Linked DNA regions of Homo sapiens: region 1 is linked to region 2. The links come from fine-mapping of genetic effects on gene expression. A gene starts in region 2. The other region holds a variant in brackets. All regions are shown on one strand. Distances are between the middles of the regions.

Region 1 (8,321 bases), 58 kb before region 2:
CCATCACCCACGGAGATGGGACAGCCCTTCCTGTGTGTACAGCGGGCCCACGGCCACCACACTACCCTCTGGAGTGAACTGACTGCCGCGAGGCCTGGGGAGCTGGCTCACCACCTGTCCTCCACCGTTCACCCTGTCCACTGCAGAAACGACCTCCTACCCTCAAGCCGGCCCCCAACCCCCATGCACAGGAGCCCAGCCCTCTTGGGCCCCGGCTCCGCCCAGCAGGGGGCGCCCAGGAATCTCAGACTCGGGGGAATGAAAGCCGGGAGAGCAGTGGGGATAGCGGGCAGGTTGGCTGGAAGCCGCGGGCTCGCGCTGAACAGCTCTGAGGCCGGCCAGAGGCCCGTGCCCGGCATTTGTCCAGCCCCAGCTGTCACTTGCAGGTGCCGGTCCGGTTACCCTCATTGCGGGCCAGGAGCGGGGAGGTGGAGGGCGCCCTGCGGCCCTGGGATCCGCCGCCCACGTGCTCCCCGGGCTCCTCCCCCTGCACACCGTTGTTCGCGTTTCCGACCCCGCAGATTCCCCAAGGCGCGCCCTAACGAACTCTCACTCCCCTGGTCCGGGCTCCCTTCTCCGGGATTCCGGTAACCCTATCTGTCCCTGTCTGCAGCCGCGCCGCGCGGAACCCTGCCGGGAGCCCCTACGGAGGCGCCAAATACACAAAGGGTAGTTGGCGGGGAGGCGCACCATGACTACAGCTCCGGGACCTGCGCTTCACCCCCACGGCGCCCCCGTGGGGCCTTGGTGCGCGCGCCCTGGCTGGACCCTCCTAGCTGCGAGAGTGCACGGGTAGTGACCAGCCCAGGCACCTGGGAATCCATCAGCTGTCATCCAATCCTTTAATTACCTTGATTGAGCTCCTTACTGTGGCCAAGCATTGCTTGATTTATTTATTTACTTATTTTTATTATTTAATTTAATTTTTTTTTTTTTGAGACGGTGTCTCGCCTTGTCACCCAGGTTGGAGTGCAATGGCGCAATCTCAGCTCACTGCAACCTCCGCCTCCCGGGTTCAAGCGATTCTCCCGCCTCAGCCTCCCAGGTACCTGGGATTACAGGTGTGCACAAACAGTATTTTTAGTAGAGACAGGGTTTCATCATGTTGGCCAGGCTGCTCTCGAACTCCTGACCTCAGGTGATACGCCCGCCTGGCCTCCCAAACTTCTGGGATTACAGGCGTCAGCCACCGCGCCTGGCCACTTGTTCTTTCTTTCATTCTTTCCTTCACTTGCCAAGGTTCTGGAGACCCACAGAGAGCCCATACTGTCCTCCCGAGACTCCTTTTTGGGAGGGCAACCCACATCTGGGAACTGTGCCCCAGGACAGGATGCAAAGGCACAACAGAGATGGCAGAATCCTGATGTCTGTGCTCTTAAAGGAGGCGTGAAAACAGGCAGGCCAGGCGCAGTGACTAAGGCCTGTAATCCCAGCACTTTGGGAGGCCCACGTGGGTAGATTGCTTGAGGTCAGGAGTTTGAGACCAGCCTGGCCAATGGTGACACCCCAGCTCTGCTAAAAATCCAGAAAATTAGCCGGGCATGTTGGCAGGCACCTGTAATCCCAGCTACTTGAAGCCGGGAGGCAGCCTGGGAGACAGAGCAAGACTTTGTCTCAAAAAAAAAATTTTAAAATGTTTTAAAAATACTTGCTCGGGCCACACCCCAGACTGATTAAGTCAGAGTTTCTTGTAGGTTCTGTTTTTTGTTTTGTTTTTTTTTAGATGGAGTTTTGCTCTGTCACCCAGACTGGAGTGCAGTGGAGCCATCTCGTCTCACTGCAACCTCCGCCTCCTGGGTTCAAGCAATTCTCCTGCCTCAGCCTCCCAAGTAGCCAAGATTACAGGCATGCGCCACCACGCCGAGCTAATTTTTGTATTTTTAGTAGAGATGGGGTTTCTCCATGTTGCCCAGGCTGGTCTTGAACTCCCAACCTCAGGTGATCAACCTCAGGTGATCCACCCGACTCAGCCTCCCAAAGTGCTGGGATTACAGGCGTGAGCCACACTGCCCAACCGCCGGTTCTTTTTTTTTTTTTTTTAACTGTTCAGGCAATTCCAACATGTGCTCAAACTGAAAACCAGGGCTCTCTACTCTCTTAGCAGGTGTTTTCTCCCTTTGTCTACCGTGACGGAGATTACTGATCTCCTGTGGGCTGAGCTCTGTGGTCAGGGCTTGTCCTTATCTGGCCAGTCCTCGGCACCACAAGTGACTGCCTTCACCCCCTCTTGGCCCCTGTCTCTGTCTCCTGGTTCCTCTTCTCTCTACTACCTCTAACCTCTGGGAATCTGGTGTGTCCTCGGGTCCTCAGACCCCCTCACTCCTCCAGAACTGCAAAGCCTTTTTTTTTTTTTTTTTTTGAGATGGAGTCTCTCTCTGTCACCCAGCATGGAGTACAGTGGCGTGATCTTGACTCTGCAACCTCCGCCTTCAGGGTTCAAGTGATTCTCCCACCCCAGCCTCCCAAGCAGCTGGGACCACAGGCGTGCACCATCACACCTGGCTAATTTTATATTTTTTGTAGAGATGGAGTCTTGCTACATTGCCCAAGCTGGTCTTGAACTCCTGGGCTCAAGTGATCCTCCTGCCTCAGCCTCCCAAAGTGTTAGGATTACAGGCGTGAGCCACCGTGCGTGGCCCAGGTGCAAGGCCTTTGACACCACTCACCCACCGACCCCCAAATCTGCTGTACCAGCTAAGCTTTCTGCCCAGGGCGGCAGCCTGGGACATCCATGGCCTGTGATATCTGCCCCAGAACAAGTGAGTCCTGCTCAGAGCCGGGAATTGGATTTCATGGAAGTGTTGAAATGAGGAAGGCGGATGAGCCAACCAGGGCAGACAGCAGAGGCCTCACCCGGTCACATGGGCCCCCACGTCCTGGGCCTCTGGGCCTCCCCAGGAGCCTCCTAAACCCCAGAGCTGTCCGTACCCCTGATCTGCTGAGATCTCCCCATCCTGTGGCTCTCTAGCCCAGGAGGTCACCAGGGCCTGGCATGGAGTCCTCCCTGGAGTCCAGAGATGGGGACACCAAAGTAGTAGGAATGATGGGGACTATAGAGAGTAAGAAACTAGTTGGCCAGGCGTGGTTGCTCACGCCTGTAGTCCCAGCACTTTGGGAGGCCGAGGCGGGCAGATCATCTGAGGTTGGGAGTTTGAGACCAGCCTGACCAACATGGTGAAACCCCGTCTCTACTAAAAATACAAAAAATTAGCCGGCAGTGGTGGCACATGCATGTAATTCCAGCTACTCAGGAGACTGAGGCAGGACAATCGCTTGAACCTGGGAGGCGGAGGTTGCAGTGAGTCGAGATTGCGCCACTACACTCCAGCCTGGGCAACAAAGTGATACCCCGTCTCAAAAAAAAAAAAAAAAAAAAAAAAAAGAAAGAAACTAGTGACCATGTTAGGAACATGCGGGCAACCAGTGCCCCAAGCTTGGGACAGTAGCAGGCAGGACAGGAATTCAAGCGAAATAGAAGTGCCCAGCAGGGGCCGGGGCAGTGGCTCACACCTGTAATCCCAGCACTTTGGTAGGCCGAGGCGGACCGATCCCTTGAGGTCAGGAGTTTGAGACCAGCCTGCCCAACATGGTGAAACCCCTTCTCTACTAAAGATACGAAAAGTAGCCAGGAGCGGTGGTGCGCGCCTGTAATCCCAGCTACTCAGGAGGTTGATGCAAAAGAATTGCCTGAACCCGGGAGGCAGAGGTTGCAGTGAGCCGAGATGGCACCATGGCACTCCAGCCTGGGCGACAGAGCAAGACTCAGTCTCAAAAAAAAAGAAGTGGCTGGCAGGATCTGGAGACGGACTGGAGCCTCCCCACCTCCTTCCCTTCCTCCTCTGCCCTCCCCCGCCCCACCTCTAGCAGCCCCCACCCTGTGTGCTGACCGTGGAGCAGAAGCCACAGTCACTTCCTGAAGGCAGCGGCCCCAGCTCGGGTCCCACTCATCCCATGGCCCATCACCTGCCTGCAGCCATGGTGAGTGCTGGAAGAGGCCTGTGCCTCACTGGCTGGGAAGCAAGGGACACAGATGTTCCCAGAAGGATAGGATCCACCTGTGGAGGGGCGGGCGGGGGGGCGGGGGGTGGCTGCGAAAGACATCTGGGAAACGGGAAGGGTCGGCAAAAAGGACCCGAGGTAGGCGGCCACCAGGCACACCCCAGGACAGCGCGGGCTCCTGGGGGTTCACGCTCAGGTTGGGACTGCGAGGGGGACAGATGGGACTCCCCGGGGGGACAACTCCCGTCTCCCCAGGTCAACATGAGCAGCCATGTGGGAACGGGCTGCTGGGGTGAGAGCAGTGCTTTCCTGCGGGGTGACAAAGTGGGTCATGACCCTCCCCCGTCCAGTCACCCAAGTTGTGACCTGCTAACCCTGACTTATCTAGCCCTGTGGTCGCCCGGGAGCACTTCCTTCAAACCACTCGGGGCTTTGACAGGGGCACTTCAGGCCCCAGGTGGGAATTGCTGCCTTTCCAAGGAGCAATCCTGGTCTCTGGTCCTCTGGATGGGGAAAGTGAGGCACACGCAGGAAGCAAAGGCCACACGTTTCTGCCCTTTCCCTCCCCCAATCTCCTTGACCACAGGTGAAAGGGGCGTTTGTAGGACTAAGGAGGCCTGGCCTTCTTGTGAATCTGCCTACCTCTGTGAGGAGTGGTTGCAGGGCCAGCTAGGAGGGCAGCTGGGACAGCTGGGTATGCAGGAGACAGCGCCTGTGCCCACGGTGTCTGCACCAATCCTCTCAGGCACTGTCAACTGTGAGCATTCCTGACCATCAGCCCGCATGTCAGAGACGGTGTGAGAGGGACCGCATGGCCGTCTCCAGGCATCTCTGTGTTTTCCTGATGGTCAGGCTGAGTACATGGCTGTCTTTGTGCTGCCTGAATATTGTTTATTTCAGCAAATATTTACTGAGCACCTACCATGTTCCAGGCCCTGGGAAGACAGCAATGAATGAGCCAAGTCTCTGCCTTGCAGAGGCTGAGGAACTGAGGGAAGTTGTGGTGTAGAGAGACAAAAAAAAAAAAAAAAAAAAATCAAGACACATTAAAAACAATGTAAAATAG[T/C]ATAATACGTAGGGGTGGGTACGATGGAGAAAATCATGCATGCTGAATGCAGGGCAGTAGTGGGATGGGGTGATCCATTTAAAATAGGGTGGTCTAGGCCAGGCGTGATGGCTCATGCACTTTGGGAGGCCGAGGTGGGTGGATCACTTGAGGTCAGGAGTTCGAGACCAGCCTGGCCAACATGGTAAAACCCTGTTTCCATTAAAAATACAAAAAAAATTAGCCAGGCGTCGTGGCAGACACCTGTGATCCCAGCTACTCAGGAGGCTGAGAATCGCTTGAACCCAGGAGGCGGAGGTTGCAGTATGGCGAGATTCCACCACTGCATTCCAACCTGGGTGACAGAGTGAGACTCCGTCTCAAAAAAAAAAAAAAAAAAGAAAGAAAGAAAAATAGGGTGGTCTAGGTTGGGCACGGTGGCTCACACCTGTAATCCCAGCACTTTGGGAGGCTGAGGCGGGTGGAGGGTGGATCACCTGAGGTCGTGAGTTTGAGACCAGCCTGGCCAACGTGGTGAAACCCTGTCTCTAGTTAAAATACAAAAATTAGCCAGGTGTGGTGGCGAGTGCCTGTAATCCCAGCTACTTGGGCGGCTGAGGCACGAGAATCATTTGAACCTGGGAAGTGGAGATTGCAGTGAGCCGAGATCGCGCCATTGCACTCCAGTCTGGGTGACAGAGCAAGACTCCATCTCAAAAAATAAAAATAAACAAATAGGGTGGCCTTGGATGGCCTCTCTAATAAGAAAATATGAGAACAGAGGCTGGGAGGAGGAAAAGGAGAGACCCAGGTGGTGCAGAGACATGTCCTGGGTCAGGGACAGGGCAGAGGCCCCGAGGTCGGAGGGAAGTGTTCAGGGTGCAGGGAGGAGAAGGTGGCTGGGTAGGGAGGCTGGTTCGCCCAGGCTTTTATGAGGCATTTAGCTTGAACTGTGGGGACATGAGGAAGCATTGCCGAGTTTTGAGCAGAGGGACACAAACAGACTCAGGGTTCAACAGGCTTCTCCCTCCAGCTGCCATGGGGGGAACTGACCAGGGAAGGGGGTAGGCAGAGGCCCAGGGAAGGGCTTGTTAGAGTAATCCAGGCAATTGGTTGGGGGAGGGCAGACACTGCCTCCCACTACCTCCTGGGGTGACAGTGGTGAAGGCAGTGAGAAGTGGTTGGATTCCGGATGTGTTTTGAAATTAGCACAGAAGGGACTGGGGGCCTGGGCGCGGCGGCTCAAGCCTGTAATCCCAGCTACTGGGGAGGCCGAGGTCGGGGGAATCATTGGAGCCCAGGAGTTGCAAGCTGCAGTGAGCTATGATTGCACCACTGCTCTCCAGCCTGGGCAATGGAACGAGACTGGAGACATGCAGTGGGAGGGGTGAAAGAATGAGGGGGTCAAGGATGCTGGGGGGGTGGGGTACCACCCATGGGGGGAGGGCAGTGGGACTGGAGGCTGCAGGAGGGATGTCGGGATCTCCAGTGCTGCTAGAGGAGGTTGGGTGTGGAATCAGCACTAAATGGAGAAGTAGGGAGGGGTGTCGGTCCCAGGATCCTAGGATCCATGGGGGCTCCTGGGAAAGAGCTGAGGGCTGACCGGGCCTGGGCGCAGGGGTGGTGGTTGTGGGCTGTGCCTGAGGGTCCCCAGGCCCATCCTTCCATGCCCCTTCTGTGTGTTTGAGCCCCTGCCTCATTGGCTCTGCGTCTCCTAGGAGAGCCATCAGGACTTCCGGAGCATCAAAGCAAAGTTCCAGGCCTCTCAGCCGGAGCCCAGCGACCTGCCCAAAAAACCTCCGAAGCCTGAGTTTGGTAAACTGAAGAAGTTCTCCCAGCCTGAGCTAAGCGAGCACCCCAAGAAGGCCCCGCTGCCTGAGTTTGGTGCAGTGTCCTTGAAGCCCCCGCCGCCTGAGGTCACTGACCTCCCCAAGAAGCCCCCGCCGCCTGAGGTCACTGACCTCCCCAAGAAGCCCCCGCCGCCTGAGGTCACTGACCTCCCCAAGAAGCCCCCGCCGCCTGAGGTCACTGACCTCCCCAAGAAGCCGTCCAAACTGGAGTTGAGTGACCTCTCCAAGAAGTTCCCACAGCTGGGGGCCACTCCGTTTCCAAGGAAGCCCCTGCAGCCTGAGGTCGGTGAGGCCCCTTTGAAGGCCTCGCTGCCGGAGCCTGGTGCGCCGGCCCGGAAACCCCTGCAGCCCGACGAACTCAGTCACCCCGCCAGACCCCCCTCCGAACCCAAATCCGGCGCATTCCCCAGGAAGCTCTGGCAACCCGAGGCCGGTGAGGCTACCCCGAGGTCCCCGCAGCCTGAGTTGAGTACCTTTCCCAAGAAGCCTGCGCAGCCTGAGTTCAACGTGTACCCCAAAAAGCCTCCGCAGCCTCAGGTCGGTGGCCTCCCTAAGAAGTCCGTGCCGCAGCCTGAGTTCAGCGAGGCCGCTCAGACTCCCCTCTGGAAGCCTCAGTCCAGCGAGCCGAAGCGCGACTCCAGCGCCTTTCCCAAAAAGGCCTCCCAGCCTCCGCTGAGTGACTTTCCCAAGAAGCCTCCGCAGCCTGAGCTTGGGGACCTCACCAGGACCTCCTCAGAGCCCGAAGTCAGCGTGCTTCCCAAGAGGCCGCGGCCGGCCGAATTCAAAGCGCTCTCCAAGAAGCCCCCGCAGCCCGAGCTGGGCGGCCTCCCCAGGACCTCCTCAGAGCCCGAGTTCAACTCACTCCCCAGGAAGCTGCTGCAGCCGGAGCGCCGGGGGCCACCCCGCAAGTTCTCACAGCCTGAGCCCAGCGCTGTCCTCAAGAGACACCCGCAGCCTGAGTTCTTCGGTGATCTCCCTCGAAAGCCTCCACTCCCCAGCTCCGCTTCCGAGAGCTCACTGCCTGCGGCCGTGGCCGGCTTCAGCTCCCGGCACCCGCTCAGCCCTGGGTTTGGAGCGGCTGGGACACCCCGCTGGAGGTCAGGAGGCCTGGTTCACAGTGGAGGGGCCAGGCCAGGCCTCAGACCCAGCCATCCACCCCGGCGGAGGCCTCTGCCCCCTGCCAGCAGCCTGGGACACCCTCCAGCCAAGCCCCCGCTGCCCCCGGGGCCCGTGGATATGCAGAGCTTTCGGAGACCCTCTGCAGCATCCATAGGTGGGTGAGGGCGGGCGGCACCGGCAGGAGCGGGGGCTGAGGTCCCAGGCAGTGCCGGCTTCCCTGCCCTACTCTCTACCCCACAGATCTACGGAGGACCCGCTCGGCCGCTGGGCTCCACTTCCAGGACCGACAGCCTGAAGACATCCCGCAG
Region 2 (8,321 bases):
ACGTCAGGAGATCGAGACCATCCTGGCTAACAGAGTGAAACCCCATCTCTACTAAAAAAAAATATTAAAAAAATTAGCCAGGCATGGTGGCGGGCGCCTGTAGTCCCAGCTACTCGTGAGGCTGAGGCAGGAGAATGGCGTGAACCCGGGAAGCGGTTCACGGAGCTTGCAGTGAGCTGAGATCGCGCCACTGCACTCCAGCCTGGGCAACAGAGCGAGACTCCATCTCAAAAAAAAAAAAAAATTACTCAGGAAGGGGAGCAGGTTAAGTCATTTATTTTATATATGATACTACATTTAAAAAAATTTTAAAAACCTATACATTCCCCTAAAATGAACTTTTTTTTCCCTGACTATACCCTAACTCTGAATCTTTGCTGACTTTAATTGGAACAGACTTCTCATCAAAATTAAGCAAATCCTATTCTCACACCCAGGAGAGAAGTAACTGCAAAACAAGATTTCCAACCTGGGTTCCCAGATCAAGCTTGCTAGCTCACTGCATTTGTGGTCTACTGCACACTCCACTCCTGGTAGAGAAAGAATTCCAAAGAACCAAGTTTCTATTTTTCTCCTGTCTCTCAAAGGCTTTCAAGATAAAAATCCAAATTCACTGCCCATCAGCTGGCTGCCAGTGCTCCAACCTTAAAACTCTATAGCAACTTCAGTGTTCTTGTTTGTTTGTTTGTTTGAAGAAGGAGTATCGCTCTGTCGCCCAGGCTGGAGTGCAGTGGCCCAATCTCGGCTCACTGCAAGCTCTGCCTCCCAGGTTCACGCCATTCTCCTGCCTCAGCCTCCCCAGTGGCTGAGACTACAGGAGCCCGGCACCACGCCCGGCTAATTTTTTGTATTTTTAGTAGAGACGGGGTTTCACCGTGTTAGCCAGGATGGTCTCTATCTCCTGACCTCGTGATCTGCCCGCCTCGGCCTCCCAAAGTGCTGAGATTACAGGCGTGAGCCGCCGGGCCCAGCCTGTTTTGTTTTTTCTTTTTTTTGGTAGAGACAGGGTTTCACCATGTTGCCCAGGCTGGTCTTGAACTCCTGAGCTCAAATAGTCCTCTCACCTCAGCCTCCCAAAGTGCTGGGATTACAGGTGTGAGCCACTACACCCAGCACAACTTCAGTTCTCGATAAAGCATACACTCAAATCTCTGCTCTTTGGATACTCTCTTCCCTGCCCCTCCCCAACCATCTTCTTCTCCTCCACTTCCACACGTCTTCCTGTCATGGAGGAACAGGTCCCTGCCCCCAGCAGGTGGCGGAGGTCACCTCCTCCATTCTTTCTACCAAGCAACTCCACTAACTTCTATCACAGCATAATTACCTTATGTTATGGTAATTACATAACATACATAACATACAAATATGTTAATGGCCTCTCCACTCTGCATGGAGTGCAAAAGTATAGGCTTCTAAAGAGATTTCCTTAAGACTTGTAATGAAAAAAAAAAAAAAAAGTTTTCCACAGGCCCTATCAAAAATATCCAAGTGTTGCCAGCTTCCTAAACTATCCTCTATGAAGCTAGTACTAGACTTTGAGACTTTGAGCCTCTTTCTCACAACGGCTATTTTATTCTACAATTTTCAGGTTCCAACAGTCCACATGTATTTGTAAAATGACTCAGTCACAAAATGACTATTTGAAAATGGACAGGGGAAAAGGGAAAATTTGTAATCTATTAATTTACCCTATCATCTAGCAAGGTTCTACCAGCACTCCTTCCTGCATACGGTAAATAAATTTATCTTAAAGCCCTCCAAATACCACCCTCAGAAATCCTACCAGCTTCCGTAGATAGACGCTGAAAAAGTCAAAATTAACACATTCCTTCCCAGAGTTTTCAATAGTAAAATGCTGGGAATAGAGGAAGTTTTTCTCATTTCTAAGGGCCAGTAACCATGGTATTTTATTTCTCCCTACTTAAGGAGGGAAAGAATCTGGAATTTTCTCCGGATTTATTATCTACCAATATAGCTAGCACTTAGGGAACGTTCTTAACCTAAGCGCTCAACTAGGCAGGGCGCAGTAGCTCATGCCTGTAACTTCAGCACTTTGGAAGGCCTAGGCAGGAGGATGGCTTGAACCCAGGAGTTTCAGACCAGCCTGGGCAACACCCGGAGACCTCCTCTCTTCAAAAAATTAGCCGGGCATGGTGGTGCCGCGCCTGTGATCCCAGCTACTCAGGAGGCTGAGATGGAAGGATCGATTGAGCCCAGGAGTTCGAGGCTGCAGTGATCTGTGATCGTGCCACTGCATCCCAGCTTGGGTAACAGAGGGAGACCCTGTCTCAAAGAAAAAAATTAAATATATAAGTGCTCAACCGCATTCACTTTTAATCTCCATAAACTAAGCTTCACACATTACAATATGAGGAAGGCAAAGTCACAGACAGAAAGGAAAGAAAACGGAGGGAGTTAGTATTTAATAGCTACACTTTCTGTTTCCGATGATGAAAAAGTTCTGGACATGAAGCAGTGACGGTTACAGCACACTGAGTCAGTATACTCAATGCCACTGAATTATACGCTTAAAAAATGGTTAAAATGGCAAAGTCTACGTTATGTCTATTTTACCACAATGAAATAAATGTCTGGGAAATTCAATGTGTACCCAGGCTTCCCCTTCCTTCCCGGCCGCTGATCTTGGAGCCAAAACCTCTCTGTCTCTCTTAAGTGTCTGTAATCAGAATGAATGAGTTTCACCGGGGCACAAGTCGATGCTTCCTCCTTTAAAGAAACTTTTAAAAGCCAAGGAGTCAAAGAGCCCCAAGCAGGACTCGAAAAGCTGATGAAGTCTGGAAGTAAATGAACCCGCCTCCTGACAGAACAGCTTCCCCGAAACACGGGAAAAAGGGGATTCCTCCCCCGACTTCGTATCTGTCTGCTTCCGAGGGTGAACGCTAAGCAGCAGATCCCATCTCTCCACTAATACCTGCGGCGCACCCGGGGAGGAGGAGCGGGAAACGGCGAGGGACTTGAGCCAGGGCCAGAGCGTGGGGCGAGGGGCGGTTCCGAGGGAGGCACTTCCCGCGGAGCGCGGTCGGCGCGCGGGGACTAAGGGGCGGGGCAGGAGGGGAGCCCCCCGACCCGGCTTCGCGGCCCTTCCTGACGCTTCCCTCGCTCGGTTACCGTTGACTCGGGCTGACTGCGCGCGAGGCCTCCCGGGCGCGCACCCTCTCTCCTCCCCCCACGTTACGGATCAGAAAACAGACCCCGGGAGGAGAGGGGACGGGGGGCTGAAACCCGGCCCCCGAGGTCACCCTCCCGGGGAGCGGTCGGGTAGGCCTCGGAGGCTCTCCGGTCCGGGCCCGCGCCATCAACCCCCATGCGCAGCAGCTGGGCCTGAGGCCTCGACTACGGGGTTGGCCCCGGCCTGGAGGGACTGAGGGTGGCGAGGCTCGAGGCCCGGTGTAGGGGACGATTCTGGAGGCTCCCCCGGCTCCCCGCTCACGGCCCTAGACGCCGCTACCCTGAGCAGGCGGTACGGGAACAGCCGGGGCCGAGGCCGCGCCGGGGCTAGGCCGCCAACAGACCTAACGGAGCCGCCGCCCGCGTCGGCCGCGGAGAGGAACCCTTACCCGTGGCAAAGGACCGTGGGATACTCACCCCTTAGGGCCCGGAGCCCCGTTGCCGCTCGGCACGCCGGGCGCGCCGCTCTCTTCCTCCATTTTGATCTCCGTCGCCGCCACCTCCGCCGCCGCTTCGACCCCTGCCGCCATTTTCTCCGCGTCTGGGCTTTGTGTGAGCGAACGGGCTGCACCGCGCTGCGCCTGCGCGCCCACGTGACCCGACGCAACCAGTAACACCTGCGCCCGCCGCTCCCGGCTGCCTCCTTGGCCCCACTCGCCCCGGGCCACGCCCCCGCCGCGCGCAGGCGCAGACCGGCAGCTGTTGATCGCTTCTCTCTCGAGATACACTCGCGTTAGGCACCGACTGGCTGTTCCCGGCGCGCGTCCTCTGAGTCCGATAGAGGAGGCATCTCCCCACCCCACCCCACACAAACACCTAGACCTAGTCACTCTCAGCTTTCTGTAACCAGAGCTGGAGCAGAGGGGAAGCAATGATCCTGTCTAGAGATTCCTGGAAGTTTTAGATGAAGCTTGTTCAACCCGCGGTCCGGCACACGATTCGTAAACTTTCTTAAAACATTGTGTCTTTTTGTGTGATTTTTTTCTTTTTGTAACGCAATTGCGCGGTTCTCCAGCGCGAACTTTGTAGGCAACAACGGAACGGCATGGAATAATATCAGAGTATTATCCGTAATTCGCATTATAATTGCAAACAGTTCGTCCAGAAGAAACGGAAAACTGTTAAAATTCACTAATAATGGGGCCAGGCGCGATGGCTCACTCCTGTAATCCCAGCACTTTGGGTATGGGAGGCCGAGGCGGCGGATCACCTGAGGTCAGGAGTTCGAGACCAGACTGGCCAACATGGTGAAACCGCGTCTCTACTAAAAATAAAAAAATTAGCTGGACGTGGTGGCGGGCGCCTGTAATCCCAGCTACTCGGGAGGCTGAAGCAGGAGAATCGCTTGAACCCAGGAGCCGGAGGTTGCAGTGAGCCGAGATCACGCCACTGCACCGCAGCCTGGGAGATAGACTGAGACTCCATCTCAAAAAACAAAAAGATAAGTATTGAGTACTGGGCTTAATACCTGGGTGATGAAATAATCTGTACAACAAACCTCCATGACAAGTGTTTACCTATTTAACAAACCTTCACATTTACCCCCAAACCTAAAAGTTAAAAACAAAATTAAAAAAAAAATTAATGGCTGGGCGCGGCAGCTCACGCCTGTAATCCTACCACTTTGAGAGGCCAAGGCGGGTGGATCACGAGGTCAAGAGATCAGACCATCCTGGCCAACATGATGAAACCCTGTCTCTACTAAAAATACAAAAATTAGCCGGGTGTGGTGGCAGGCGCCCATAATCCCAGCTACTGGGGAGCCTGAGGCAGGAGAATCGCTTCAACCCAGGAGGAGGAGGTTGCAGTGAGCCAAGATCGGGCCACTGCACTCCAGCCTGGTCACAGAGTGAGACCCCATCTCAAAAAAATTAAAAATAATAATAAAGAGCGAGAGGACTCTTGCAATGTTGCATAAAGTGAACTGTGACAGAATTCAGGGTGTATTCTGTACTAGGCATAATGCTGTATGGTCTTATTTTTGTGTGCATTCGTGGCATCAGTTTTATGGTGCTGTGCAGCCTCCAATGTGCCATTTTCCAAGTGCAGACAGTCGAATTGGCACCATCAGATGTTACGTGTGCTTGTGGCAACTTGGGCAGTAAGATGCAGCGATTATCTTTTTGAGACGGAGTTTCGCTCTTGTTGCCCAGACTGGAGTGCAATGGCGCCATCTCGGCTCGCTGCAACCTCCGCCTCCTGGGTTCAAGCGATTCTCCTGTCTCAGCCTCCCGAGTAGCTGGGATTACAGGTGCATGCCACCACGCCCGGCTAACTTTTGTATTTTTAGTAGAGACAAGGTTTCATCATATTGGTCAGGCTGGTCTCGAACTCCTGACCTCGTGATCCGCCTGCCTCAGGCTCCCAAAGTGCTGCGATTGTAGGCGTAAACCACTGCGCCTGGCCTTCAATGCAGCGATTATCAATAATATATTTTTTTCTTTTTTTGGAGACAGTCTTGCTCTGTCACAGAGGCTGGAGTGCAGTGGCACCATCTCAGCTCACTGCAACCTCCGCCTCCTGATTTCAAGCGATTCTTCTGCATCAGCTTTCCAAGTATCTGGGATTACAGGTGCACACCACGACGCCTGGCTAAGTTTTGTATTTTTTAGTAGAGATGGGGTTTTGCCATGCTGGCCAAACTAGTCTCAAACTCCTGACCTCAGGTGATCTGCCCACCTCAGCCTCCCAAAGTGCTGGGATTACAGGTGTGAGTCACCGTGCCCAGCCTATCAATAATATTTCAATCTACCTTTGTAAATGATAGCTCACTGCAACCTTGAACTCCTGAACTCAAGCGATCCTCCCCTGCTTAGCCTGTCAAGTAGCTGGGACTGTAGGTGCACGCCGCTGCACTTGGCTAATTTTTTATTTTTATTTTTTGGTACAGATAGGGTCTTGCCGTTTTTCCCAGGATGGTCTCGAACTCCTGAGCTCAAGGGATCCTACAGCCTTGGCCTCCCACAGTGCTGGGATTATAAGCGTGAGCCACTGTGCTGGTCCTTAGAGGATTATTAAAGACAGGTTAACACCAAACTAAAACTCTTCTCTATGAAAGTATTAGAATAGATTTGCAAAGAAAACACTTTTCCTTCTCTCTCTCTCTGTTTCTTTCTCTTTTTGTAGAGACAGGGTCTTGCTATGTTGGCCAGGCTGGTCTCTAACTCCCAGCCTTCAAGCAATCCTCCTGCCTTGGCCTCCTAAAGTGCTGGGATTTCAGGCATGAGTCACCCCATCTCGTCTCTCTCTTCCTCATGGCATGTCCTGAGGCATCTGTACATCAACTCCTGGGGCACCACAGGCCAAAGTTGGCCTGAGGAAAGATGGGTGTCAGGCTGTGTAGGGAGTTCAGCTGCAGGAGCAAGGAAGGCCCCCCCAAGGGGCAGGAGAGCTCATGCGCACTGGTGTGATGCTCCGTTTTTGCAGACCACTGGTGCGTCAGTCACCCCATGCCTAGGAGGCCCTGCCCATCTCTCCAGCCACCTGCCCCTCAATCACACTGCTCCAGCCCTGGGGTTCCTCCCTGCTGCTCTTCCTACAGGCTAAGCAGTTTCCAGCCTCTGGGCCTTTGTGCTTAGCTGTTTCCTCCACTCCCATGGCCACACAGGCTTCTCCTTGCCCTTCCAGTCCAGGCAGAAAGTTTTTCTTCCTTTGTGAGTGAGCTACATACCAGGCAGGGATTCATATGGAAAACAGACCTTGAGCAATCAGCTCCTCCACTCTGAGGCTCAGTTTGCTTAACTGAAAATATGGATAATAAGAAATGCAATGCACCAGGCTGGGCACGGTGGCTCACGCCTGTAATCCTAGCAGTTTGAGAGGCCGAGTCAGGTGGATCATTTGAGGTCAGGAGTTCAATACCAGCCTGGCCAATATGGCGAAACCCCATCTGTACTAAAAATACAGAAATTAGCCAGGCATGATGGTTGGCGCCTGTAGTCCCAGCTACTCAGGAGGCTGAGACAGGATAATTGCTTGAACTCGGGAGGTGGAGGTTGCAGTGAGCAGAGATAGTGCCACTGCGCTCTAGCCTGGGCAACAGGGCGAGACTCCGTCGAAAGAAAGAAAGAAAAGAAAGAGAGAGAGAGAGAGAGAGAAAGAAAGAAAGGCACCAGAACTCACCTTTCAGGGTTGCCCTGAGCTTTAAAAGCAGACAGATGCCAAGAGCCTTTAAATATAAAAGAATCGGCAGGCAGAAAGCGCTGAAGAAGTAGGTGTTGTTATTAGATTAACTGCATTCTGGGCCAGGCTCGGTGGCTCACGCCTGTAATCCCAGCACTTTAGGGGGCCGAGGTAGGTGAATCACCTGAGGTCAGGAGTTCGAGACCAGCCTGGTCAACATGACAAGACTTCATCTCTACTAAAAATACAAAACTTAGCTGCCTGTGGTCCCAGCTACTTGGGAGGCTGAGGCAAGAGAGAATCACTTGAACCCGGGAGGCAGAGGTTGCAGTAAGCCAAGATCACCAAGATCACGCCACTGCTCTCCAACCTGGGTGATGGAGTAAGACTCTGTTTCAAAAAAAAAAAAAAAAAAAAAAAAAAACACGTATTCTGCATCTTTCCTGAGTCTTCCTCCAAAAGGAGTCCTGGTGTCACCCCGGCTCCACTTCCTACAGCTCTGAGACCTTAGATTAAGGCTTCCCTGCCCTGGGCCTCAGTCTTCTCACCTGTAAAATGTAGGTAATAACCACTTCTTCCCTAACAAGTGACAGTCAAAGGAGGGAGAGACTCGGAACTATGCCTAATCTATAGTCACCCTAAGTCAGCGTGGATATTGTCACCATTTTTAAAAAATTGTTTGTTTGCTTTAGAGACAGGGTCTTGCCCTGTTGCCTAGAATAGACAACAGAAGTATAATTATAGCTCACTGCAGCCTGGAACTCCTGGATTCAAGGGATCCTCCCACCTCAGCCTCCTGAGTAACTGTGACCACAGGTGCATGCCACCATGCCCAGCTAATATATATATATTTATATATTTATTTATTTAGTAAAGACAGGGTCTCACTATGTTGCCAAGGCTGGTCTCAAACTCCTAGGCTCAACTGATCCTCCTGCCGAAGCCTCCCAAAATGCTGGGATTACAGGCATCAGCCACCAGGCCTGGCCCATGCTGGACTCTCTACACTT

The links. PIP is the estimated chance that this variant, and not a neighbour inherited with it, causes the effect.
Region 1: its variant is fine-mapped to the expression of HNRNPM in whole blood (TOPMed, PIP 0.97).

What each region holds. Positions count from the first base shown.
Region 1 is chr19:8,498,222-8,506,542 of GRCh38, reverse strand. PRAM1 (PML-RARA regulated adaptor molecule 1) reads left to right here and starts at 3,903. Exons shown (of 10, transcript NM_032152.5): 1 at 3,903-3,978; 2 at 6,763-8,167; 3 at 8,254-8,320. The coding sequence starts at 3,952. RefSeq lists enhancers at 1-198, 238-738, 7,348-8,034 and silencers at 282-541, 652-751, 772-821. The variant T/C (reference allele first, on the strand shown) is at 5,066.
Region 2 is chr19:8,440,397-8,448,717 of GRCh38, reverse strand. It overlaps HNRNPM (heterogeneous nuclear ribonucleoprotein M), which reads right to left and starts at 3,743. Exons shown (of 16, transcript NM_005968.5): 1 at 3,607-3,743. The coding sequence starts at 3,719. RefSeq lists silencers at 3,235-3,464, 3,705-3,984, 6,559-6,853.